Linked DNA regions of Homo sapiens. Each later gene encodes a partner of the first gene's protein in a complex. Each region holds a gene or a part of one and is shown in the gene's direction. Other genes may lie near its edges. The genes, in order: SNRPF, CWC15 and PRPF4.

Region 1 (3,752 bases):
TACTAGTGATTTTAGGTTTATTGTTTAGAACTTTCTACATTTTCCAAAATTTTGTATAATATTTATAATTAGACAAATATCAGTGACTTATGCCCACTTAATTTTAATAAGGTATTTAAGATTAAAATTTAATATGGACCAGGAATGGTGGTTCACGCCTGTAATCCCAGCACTTTGGGAGGCCAAGGTGGGTACACAGCTGGAGCCCAAGAGTTTGAGACCAGCCTGGACAACACAGCGAGACCCTATCTCTACAAAAAAAATTAAAAAATTAGCTGGGTGTGGTGGCACATGCCTGTGGTCCCAGCTACTCGGGAGGCTGAAGTGGGAGGATCTCTTGAGCCCAAGAGGTCAAGGCTGCAGTAAGCCAAGATCTCACCTCTACAATCCAGCCTGGGTGACAGAATGAGACCCTGTCTCAAATTAAAAAAAAAATTTAACATGAAAAGAAAAACCAACCTTAAATACACTATCTTTACAGAATGTGTTTACTGTAGTATTTCGTTTCACTTCACTGAGAAAACAGCTAAAGAGTCAGGCTTCTAAAACACATATTGAGTCTTTGAAAGGTAGCTTCATGAAGTAGAAAAAGCAGAGTTTTGAAACCCAGGTATGTGGTCCTGAGCAAGCTATGAGGCAGAAGAATAGCGGCTGGAAGCAGGGAACCTAGGGCCCATCCATGCTGACTGGGTATCAGAGGCTACTCCCATTTCAACCCCTCCTTTTTCTGCGTGGCAGTTGAAAAATGAAAGTACCTCTTATTGGTCCCCTCCCGCAACCAATCAGACTGGTTGTGGGCCAATGGGCAACCTCTAGAGGGTATTTAAAGCCCAGAAAATTCTATAACCAATGCTCTTGAGCCGCTTGCACCAGGCGGTGCCCACCCTGTAGAGTGTACTTTCATTTAAAATAAATCTCTGCTTTCGCTGCCCTGCTTTGTTTGTGCGTTTTGTCCAATTCTTTGTTGAAAACGCCAAGAACTCGGACAGCTACCCTCAACTGGTAACAGTTACCTGCTGGGCCTACTTCCTCATCTCTTAAACGGGGCTGTCACCCCGAATCAGACAGTAAGGTAAGATTTCCACGATTGTTGAAAAAGCCTGACACATAGTAGGAACTCAAAGTCTATACAAAGACTTAAAGTTCATAAAACAATAGACAAACGGAGAAATCCACTGAAGTTTAGGGTGAATAAATCTAATAACTGTTTGGTAAAAACTACACTGACAATCATTGTCTGGTCAGTGTTCAACATTTACGTGAAACACTGAGCTTTTACAAGGCCAAGCCCCGTTTTACGTTAAATTCTCGCAACCACCCTGAGGATGGTTCCGTTTTTAAAGCCGCGTTCCTGCCGAGGAAACAATGGCCCTCGGGGTTAAGACACTGCCCAACACCGGCCGCGCCTGATAGACGCAGGTTCCGAATGCAGGCCCCCTCCAAAGTCTTGCCCACTGCTCCACAATGCCTCAACACCCAACATTTCATCCTCAACTCCAAATCCATCTCTTCAGGGCCGCAAAAAAGCGTTACTTCCCAAAGGGCGTGTTCTCCAAGAACTGCATTTAGCATTTCAGATCAGAGTGACCCGAACTCAATAGGATTACGACAAAAACTAGTGAGATTCAGATAACACCGTTACATCGAAAGTTTTAATCCGTGACAGAGGAAATATTGCTTACGCCCTTAGGTAATTTCAAATGCACGTATGAAGGCCGTGCGGGTTTCTGCAGGCGAAGCAAAAGAAAGGTGGGGCCGGCAGGGTCGTGGGGCGGGGGTGGGGCATGACACCGTATCCCAGACGCAACTCGACCTCGTTTGCAAGAAATTCTGTATCCAACTCTCTTCAGTGCGTTTCGCCGCCCCTAGTCTAGTCTGGCTAGCCCCCAATTCCTTTAAAAGGGGTTAAAACGGGTGTTGCAGAAGAGAGAACACTCAGGTAGAAAGGGCCTGCGGCAGAGGCGCCCCCAAATCATGGAACCTGTTGGAAGAGTGAGGAAGGAACTCTGGGACCCCGAACATTCTCACGGGTGTAAAAAGACAAAGTAAATCCCCATTAGCCAAGTTGGGGAGAAGTCACATCCGTTACACAGCCTCTCCCAGACCGCCCTCTAGGAAGGACACCACATTTAAAAACACCGGCCTGCCTCCAGTCCTTGGCTGCCTCACAGCGATGCTCAGAGCCGGTTTCCCAAGGTCCGCGCGCCGCCTGCAAGGCGCAAACCCAAGCCGCTGCTGGTTGCTAGGAGATACTGGGCCAGCCATCTCCTCCAATCAGCACGCACCTCTTTGCGTCCAATCACAGAGGCAGGAAGGGCCGTGGTGGGAGGTGAAAGGTCATAGTCCTGTTTGGCGGCCATTTCTCTTGAAACTGCGGCTCGGGACCTGCGGTACCTGCTGTAGTCACGAGGGACGGGCGGCGGCCTGGTCGGCAGAGAGTAGCCTGCAACATTCGGCCGTGGTTACGATGGTAAGGAGAAAGAGAACGGCGGGAGAAGCGGGGAGAAAGAGAAGGAGGGAGACCAGCCTCGCGGGGCCTGCTGGTTCCTTCGCGCGTTTCCCATTCATCCGCGTGAGGCGCCGCGCACCCTGTCGCCAGCTCCTTTCACTCTGCTTTTAGGTTTCTGAGGCGCGTGCTCCTCCCGATGCCTTTCTTTTCCTAGGAGTGCCCGTGCCTTCTTCTCTTTGTTTGAATCCGGGCCTGGGGTATTCTTAGTTGGGGCTATAGGGTCGGGGTAAAAGTCAAAGAGAATTTGCACTTCCCACTTAACCACACTCCAGAATTCACTTTCATTCCGTGAAAGTAATGATACGGCCATGCTCTAGATTAACTCACTTGGGTGGGGAAGACAGACATTAGTCAAAAAATAACAAGTATGTAATTGCAAATAATAAGTGCTAAGAACAATGCAGACAGGAGGCTGTGAGGGTGCGCGTTAGACATTAGAGGCTTAGTCAGAGATGGCCTCCCTAGGAGGTGGAATTTAACTCGAAGCCTAAGTGTCATGAAATACGACCCTTTAAAGAGCAGGAGGAGGAGTGTACCGAGCACAGGGAATAGGAGCATAAGACCTGCGGCCGGAAAGAAAGCTTGGTCATTTGGAGAAATTGACAGAAAGGTATAGCCACTTGCGCGAATAGTGGTTAAGAGATGGTATCGGAGGAGCAGGCGTTGGGCAGGACCTCTTAGGCTGTATTGGGAGGTTTTGATTGTACTCCAAATCAATTTAAAATGATTCGGTTGGAAGCCATTGGATCATTTTAAGCAGAAATATGACAATCTGATGTGCACTTTAAAAAATCATAGTTACTGTGGTGGATAACAAATTGGAGAATGAAAACTGGAGACCCATTAGGTTATTGGAGTAATCGCCATATCAAGATCACTCCGAATATGCTCATGTTAGAGGGGGTTAGTAGCCAAGTTTCTTAGTTCTCTTCTTTGTTTGACTGGTGAGTGAGCAGAAGAGGGCAAAAACCGAAATCACTGGAGATGTTAATGGTTTGCTGAATAAATAGACATTAAGTAATTGCTGTAAGTAAGAGGCGGTGCTACTGACAAAGTCAGATAGGACCTAGCCCTAGCTTCCCCAGTTAAATACTGTCAAGCGTGATCTGCCCTCTGCTTCCTTCTGTAGTTTTATATTTGGGGCTTTGACTGACAATGCTGAATTGTATGTCCCCAAAACCACCTTGTTGCATCACTCTTCCCTCCTTTTACATAAGTAGCTAGCCTTGCCTGGAACAGCATT
Region 2 (3,752 bases), on another chromosome or scaffold:
CCCTCTGTGCTTAGGGAGGGAAGTAATCTAAGCAGAAGGTTTTTAAGGATTAGCACATCAGTTAATGTTAAAATTCTGTGGGACCCTAGAGCCTATAATCAATTTGCAGTTTTCTACATACAGGACAGTGAAAAACCTGAGTGGCATCCAATGAGTAATATCTAACTATGTATACATATCAGCAGTTAATTCTAGAGTTAATTGATGGAGTTACTCATAATAGTTAAAACAGGAAACCTAATTTCAACTGAAATTTAATGATTATTCATTTGAAATTATTTTCTTCTGAGAATTTAGCACACTTTTTTGCACTTTTGAGTATCTTTGCTGCTAGCTTAAAGTTGTTTTGAGCTACATAAAATTGTTTTGACTTTCTTAGGGTGATACGTTGTACATATGTACTGTGTTTTGGTAGTGTGTATTTTCCCTCCAATCTTCTGGGCTCTCACTGTTCTTTTAGGAGGAAGATGAAGATTTTGAAGAAGAAAGTGATGATGATGATACTGCAGCTCTTCTTGCAGAACTGGAAAAAATTAAAAAAGAAAGAGCTGAAGAGCAGGCCAGGAAGGTAAAACCAAAGTATTAAATATTTACATCTATCTTCTCACATACACTAAGGTAGAAATTTTTTTGAATATAAGTAATATCTTCTTATATTAGAAATCTCCTTTACCGTGTCTAAATATTATAGCACTTGTAGATCTATAAATGATTATTTTTATGACATCCTAGGTATCCTGGTTATGTAAGAAATTCTTTCCAAATAGTTCAGATGCACTGAGTAATATTCACAGGCTTGCTAGTCATTTACTTGTTTATTCATTTGTTCAACATTTAGTCGATATCTGTTAATTGACAGGAGAATCAAAGATGATCAAGATATAGTTGTGGTCTACAAAGATTATCTCTCTGCTTGTCTACTGCCTAGGTACTATTAAGGCAATCAGTCAGTAGATATTATATAACCTAGGTCAAGCTACCTAACTTCTCTGAGCCCCCACAGTCTCTCTGTTTACACAATATGAGGAAAAAATATAAAACTCAAAGATAGTTAAAATTCTGAATAAATTACCCAGAGTGATAATAAGAGGTGAAACTGAGGAGGCAAGTGCAAGTCAGAGCATTAGAGGTTTGCAAAACAATACTGAAGGAGTCTAGATTTTTTCTAAAGGACATGAAGAGCTGGTTGATTTCAGCAGGAGATTGATAAAACTGGATACGCATTTTAGAAAGATTACTCTGGCAAAATATGGAGGATGGATTGGAAAAAAACTGAGTTAGGAGGCTGTTCCAGTAATCCTCCCAATTAAGAGACTCTTAGCTTGTATGATAGGAGTTGGAATTGAGGTAAGTAATTAGATGCTGATAAAGCTGATTATCAAGGAGGTCAAAGTGGGAAGGGGAGCAGGAAAAAATAAAAAAGGAGGTTGAGTTGACAGATAGTGACTGATTGATTGTAGCAGCAGAGAGGACCCTCACTTTCTAGGTAAATGTTGGTGCCATCAATACAGGGAATGCAAAAGAATTGCCATATTTAGGCAGAGAGAAGAGGTAGTTGATGAGTTCTGTTTTGAACATGTTAAATTTGACACATTGTGAGACATTCAGGTAGGGTTGTCTGCCCCTGTTTTCAACCAGAGCAGCACAGCTTTTTCATAGATTTCTGTGTAAAATTTTATTTGAGGCAAGAATTGTTCTGTTTTTAAAAAAGAAAGTAAGAAAATATACTGCATGGTCAATACCAGGAATCTAGGGAAGTAGACTTCATGTGAATCAGGAGGGCCAGGGAAGAATTCAGAAAACAGGTAGAATTTGGGATAGACTTTGAAGACTTAGAATTCAGATTGGAAGAAGAAAAGCATTTCAAAATACAATTCTCATCAAAGTTTTGTATAAGAGAGCATAATTCCTGTAATAGCTTATAGTTTTTACATCTAGTTTTTAAAAGTCAAAGAATTATAAAAACATTCCCAGTCCCACTTGCATACCACTAGAGGGCAATTGTTCCAAATTTTTTTAGCTTGCCTAATAGTTCTGGACACATAGAGATGAGCAATTTAAATGCTTTTGGTTGACCTTGAGGGAGGATAAACATTTTAGACAGAAGGCCTTGCAGTTTTGTGAGTTTCATCTAATATCTGTATTAAAATGTGTTGATATTTCTTGCGGTTGAATGATAGTTTCTTTTATCCCTGTTTCCCTTTCTATTGGCTGGTTTTTGCCATGTTCCAAATTTAAGATTTTCAAACCATTTAGCCCTTGTCAGGGGTCAGCACCCTTTCTGTAAAGGGCCAGGTAGTAAATATTTTAGGCTGGCTGGTCATGGAGCCTCTATCACACCTACTCACCTCCACTGTTATAACATAAAAACACCCACAGAGTACATAAGTGAACAAGTGTGGCAATGTTTCAATAAAATATTTACAAAAACAGTTAGTTAGGATTTGACCTACATGCCATCTGATGACTAGCCTATATTATGAAACATAGTATGCCTGCTGTTTGAATATAGAAAGAGTTTATGCCTTTTTTCCTAGTGCTCTGTGTGGCAATCATTCAGTAACCCCAAAGGAAATAATATTCCAAACATAAAATGTCCATAACCTTTATATGTCATACACATTATAAGTTTGGATATATGGTATACTTAAGCTCCTATTTTTCTAGTATTTCAGAGAAATATCTTTTCCCTTTAAGCATCGGTATAATTTGTTACAAATAAATATATAGCTTTTAGAAAGCCACCTGTTCTGTGATGTATAGTTCCTGATTTAAGTTCTGACCAGTGACATAAAGGAATTTTCCTATTTCCTTACAAGTTAGATCTTTTCACCTCCCATTTTGATTTTTATTTTTCTTCATAAAAATGAAATTCATTGTTTACATTTGAATATTGAAATGAAGTATCAGTAACCTGTATGAAAAATTAGATTATTAAAATAATAACTTTTTTTAAATGACTTCCACACCATCTGTTTTTCCTTGATCTATTAAGTCATCAATTTCTGTTATCCCCAAAACACAGCAAAATGGGATTTATATTTGGCTTAAGATAACATGTTAACAGGTAGATCTAGAAGTGATAGCTAAGGATTTTAGACATTTTATATTCCACATTCTGAGAAGGAAACTCAGGGTGATTTGACTTTGAAGAAGTTGATGCTAAAATAAAAGTGAAGAAAGACAGTGTTGTAACTGATAAAGGATGGGAGGTATAAAAATAGAAACTGAGGCCGGGCACGGTGGCTCACGCCTGTAATCTCAGCACTTTGGGAGGCCGAGGTGAACGGATCACGAGGTCAGGAGTTCGAGACCAGCCTGGCCAACATGGTGAAATGACGTCTCTACTAAAAATACAAAAATTAGCCGGGCATGATGGCACGTGCCAGAGGCTGAGGCAGGAGAATCACTTGAACCTGGGAGGTGGAGGTTGCAGTGAGCTGAGATCATGCCATTGCACTCCAGCCTGGGCAACAGTGAGACTCCGTCTCAAAAAAAAAAAAAAGAAAAACTCAGTAAGACAATAAAAACAAAATAGATCAACCTCAGGTAAATTAGTAGAAATTCATGTTAACTGGATATAATTTTGTATATGGTAGTTTGTCCTATTTTAGGAGTTACTTCTTCATTCATAACTTGTCACCAAACCTAGAGACACAAGTTTACATTATTAGTAATTCAAAATAAGATTAAAATTAATCACAGTTAGGTATGACCCTTTAAAATGAAGGTAATAGTTTTGCTAAATGTGT
Region 3 (3,752 bases), on another chromosome or scaffold:
TTACAATAATGTTTCTGTTACATCTTCTGGATAGACAGCCTAGTTAACTCATTTGCAAAAGATGTTCTGTACTCTTACTTGCTGGTCTCAGCCAAAGTGTGTGTTTATATAGGCACAAAGTTAATAAATGAAACAAGAGGTGGCTTGAACCATTTTCTTGCCTTTTGAAGCTGTGTCATTTAGGTTTATGTGTTTGGCATAATTTAATAAACTGAAAAACAGTAAACTATAAAATGTGTAATAGACAGTTACTTTTCCCTCAGGGCATACACAGACTGCAATTACTAGAAATTATTTCTCTCTATTTGAAGAAGATCTGCTGATGTTGCCTGTTTTCTTTTTAATAGGAGAAGTGTTTGAAATTGAAGAGCATATCAGCGAGCGACAGGCAGAAGTATTGGCTGAGTTTGAGAGAAGGAAGCGAGCCCGGCAGATCAATGTTTCCACAGATGACTCAGAGGTCAAAGCTTGCCTTAGAGCCTTGGGGGAACCCATCACACTTTTTGGAGAGGGTCCTGCTGAAAGAAGAGAAAGGTTGCCTTTCTAAATATTTACTTTTTTTCTTTATTATAATCACAGGGTTCTACTCCAAATTTTGGTTGATCATTTAGTTGAACTTTAATAGAATGTCTCAAATCATGTTAACAATATCTTACTGTGTTTATATGAGTTAGCCCATAATCTGTCTTAGGCCAATTTTTACCGCACTATTAATGTTTCTTTTTTGTGTTTGTTCGTTTTTGTTTTGTTTTGTTTTGTTTTGTTTTGTTTTGTTTTGTGTTTTGAGACAGAGTCTTGCTCTGTCACCCAGGCTTGAGTGCAGCGTCGTGATCTCGGCTCACTGCAGCCTCCGCCTCCCGGGTTCAAGCGATTTTCCTGCCTCAGCCTCCCAAGTGGCTGGGATTACAGGCACCTGCCACCACATTTTTCTTTTTTGTATTTTTAGTTATTTTTTATATTTTTGTATTTTTAGTAGAGACAGGGTTTCACCATGTTGGCCAGGCTGGTCTTGAACTCCTAACCTCAAATGATTTACCCACCTTGGCCTCCCAAAGTGCTGGGATTACAAGCGTGAGCCTTCGTGCCTGGCCCGTTTTTCTTTATAGACTTGGAAGAGGGTGCTAACATGCTCCCTTGCCTCCCCTCCCCAGTGCGAGTTTTGAATTGGATAAACATTTGTTGTTGGGCTTTGAAAATTGAGACATCAAATGCATTCCATATCAATGACATAGAACAATGATAAATGTTTCTTGGATTTTATTGAAGAGGGGTACCATCCTCAGATAATGCCCTCTTGTTATTTGCAGGTTGCGAAGTCTTAGTTGTGGTCTAGTCACACACAATTATGAGGAGCCCCTCTGGTCTCTCTGTCCACTGTCTCATCTACCCTTCATCATCCAGCTTGTTGGAAGGGTTTTTTCTATTACTCCCTTGAGGTCCTTACCCTTATTTACTCTTCAACCTGCTGCAAACTGACCAACCCCTACCACATTAAAATTGCTCTTTGTTAAGATCACCAATCCACCTTTACTAAGAATAGCCCTAGTATACTGCCAGCCACTCCTCCTTGAAATACTCCCTCCTTGAACTACTCCCTTTCCTTCACTCTCCTAATAACAAATCCTCTTGATTTTCCTCTTCTCTCACTAGCTAATTCTTCTCACTTACCTTCTAAACCTCTTTTTCTCTGCCTGCCCTTTACAGGCTGCCTTTTTCTCTACTTGCCCTTGGTGATCAGCTCTACTCCCATGGCATCATTCACTGTGTGTTCTGATGATTCCCAAATCTCTCACTGCAGCTTAGGTATCCCACAGGTACTTCAAACTTGAGACATCTGAATTGAAATATTTCCCCACCTCTCTCCTATACTCATACAATTCTTAGTTGAAAATCTGCCTAGCCTCCTTTATAATCCATTAGCAAAATCTGGTCTGTTCTACTTGCGAGATACAACTCCAGCTATCTTCTTTGCTCTATCTTTACTGCTTTCAAATCTGCACTGTTGTGATAGCCCCAAACATGTTGTGTTAATTGCTTGCTTAAAATCCTAGATTGTCTTCTCATACTTGGAGTAAAAAACTCTTACCATGGTCTGTAAGGTCTTCAGCCTTACTCATGTCTCCCTTCCCCAATTTACTAGAATAGCCACATTGGTCCTTATGGAATATGCTAGTTCTTTTTATGTCTTTCCACATAATTGGTCTACTTTTATTCTTCTGTCTTGTCTTTTAGAGGCTTTTTTTCTTCCTTTTTTTTTCTTTGAAACGGAGTCTCGCTCTGTCACCCAGGGTGGAGTGCGGTGGTGCAATCTCAGCTCACTGCAACCTCCACCTCCCAGGTACAAGCCATTCTCCTGCCTCAGCCTCCCAAGTAGCTGGGACTACAGGCATGTGCCACCATGCCTGGCTAATTTCTGTATTTTTAGTAGAGACGGGGTTTCAACACGTTGGCCAGGTGTTGAACACCTCCTCAAGTGATCCTCTCAACACCTCCTCAAGTGATCCGCCTGCCTGGGCCTCCCAAAGTGCTGGGATTACAGATGTGAGCTACCGCGCCCGGCCTTTCTTCTTCATTTTTTATTAACCTGGATCCCTGTCAAACTTCTTATTCTTTCGTTTCAGCATAGATGCCACCTATTCAAAGAAGCCTTTCGTCACACCTAACCCCTCTGTTCTCTGTCATAGTATGTTATTTTATTAGCCTTTTCAAAGGGTATACTTTTTTATTATTGTTTAGTTTGTTTTTTCCACCAGCAAAGTCTATCTTATTCATTATTATGTTCCTTAAATGAATCCTTTGAGTCACTACTGCTACTATCTGAATTTCAGTCCACGGTTGTGACTCAGAGCGTCACTACAACAGTACTGTCTGATTTCCCTGCCATTATTCTTCCCTTTTAATCCATTCTTTGTACTGTTTCAGGGATCTTTCTCATCTGTAAATCCTCCTGAGCGTGGCATTAGCAATTCTTTGTGACCTGGCTCCTCCTTGCATTTGCAGCCCTATTCTTCACCAGTCCTCTTCTATGTTCTACGCTCCAGCCATATTGAATTATTTGTGACTGCAAGCTCAACATGTTTTTCTTACCTCCAGGCCTTATTTGTTTAACCCTCTGCCTGACATTTTCTCATTCTTGACCCCCTTGACCTGATTAACTGAGGACTCAATTTACATATTACCTTTTTTTAATGAAGCCTTCCCTGATCCTCTAAGCTTAGTTAGATGCCCGTTACAAAGTCCCCTCTAGCCCTCTGTGCTTACTGCTATAGTGATAGGTAATATAATGGATTATAGTTTGCCAGTACTCTCTGTTGTTTCCCCAGGACTAAGCTACTTGAAATCAAGAACTGATTCCTAGTCATCACTGTATAGTTAGCACCTGAGTCAGTATCCAGTACATTGTGGCACTGAGTGAAAGTTGGCAGTCTTCACAGACCAAGTGGTAGCAGTGTAGGGGCTCATTGACTCTAAACTGTATAGAGTAATTGCTTATAGTTGAATTTTGGAAATTTCCAAATAGAGAAGACTGAGTGGGAGAAACCACACTGGGAGTTTAGCCATCCCCACTTGACTCTTAAAGAAGGTTCCTGGAGGGCCGGGTATAGTGGCTCATGCCCGTAATCCCAGCACTTTGGGAGGCTGAGGCAGGAGGATCACTTGAGCCCAGAAGTTCAAGACTTGCCTGGGCAACATAGCAAGCCCTTCTCTCTACAGAAAAATTTAAAAATTAGCCAGTTGTAGCAGTGTACATG

What was found.
Region 2: SNRPF (region 1) and CWC15 share a complex: the UniProt entries of both Homo sapiens proteins name them as parts of the minor spliceosome.
Region 3: SNRPF (region 1) and PRPF4 share a complex: the UniProt entries of both Homo sapiens proteins name them as parts of the U4/U6-U5 tri-snRNP complex.

What each region holds. Positions count from the first base shown.
Region 1 is NC_000012.12:95,856,607-95,860,358, forward strand, and holds the start of SNRPF (small nuclear ribonucleoprotein F), read left to right. Parts: upstream 1-2,345; 5' UTR 2,346-2,467; coding exon 2,468-2,470; intron 2,471-3,752. UniProt on the Homo sapiens protein: Plays a role in pre-mRNA splicing as a core component of the spliceosomal U1, U2, U4 and U5 small nuclear ribonucleoproteins (snRNPs), the building blocks of the spliceosome.
Region 2 is NC_000011.10:94,966,805-94,970,556, reverse strand, and holds part of CWC15 (spliceosome-associated protein CWC15 homolog), read left to right. Parts: intron 1-460; coding exon 461-568; intron 569-3,752. UniProt on the Homo sapiens protein: Involved in pre-mRNA splicing as component of the spliceosome. Component of the PRP19-CDC5L complex that forms an integral part of the spliceosome and is required for activating pre-mRNA splicing.
Region 3 is NC_000009.12:113,278,598-113,282,349, forward strand, and holds part of PRPF4 (U4/U6 small nuclear ribonucleoprotein Prp4), read left to right. Parts: intron 1-347; coding exon 348-534; intron 535-3,752. UniProt on the Homo sapiens protein: Plays a role in pre-mRNA splicing as component of the U4/U6-U5 tri-snRNP complex that is involved in spliceosome assembly, and as component of the precatalytic spliceosome (spliceosome B complex).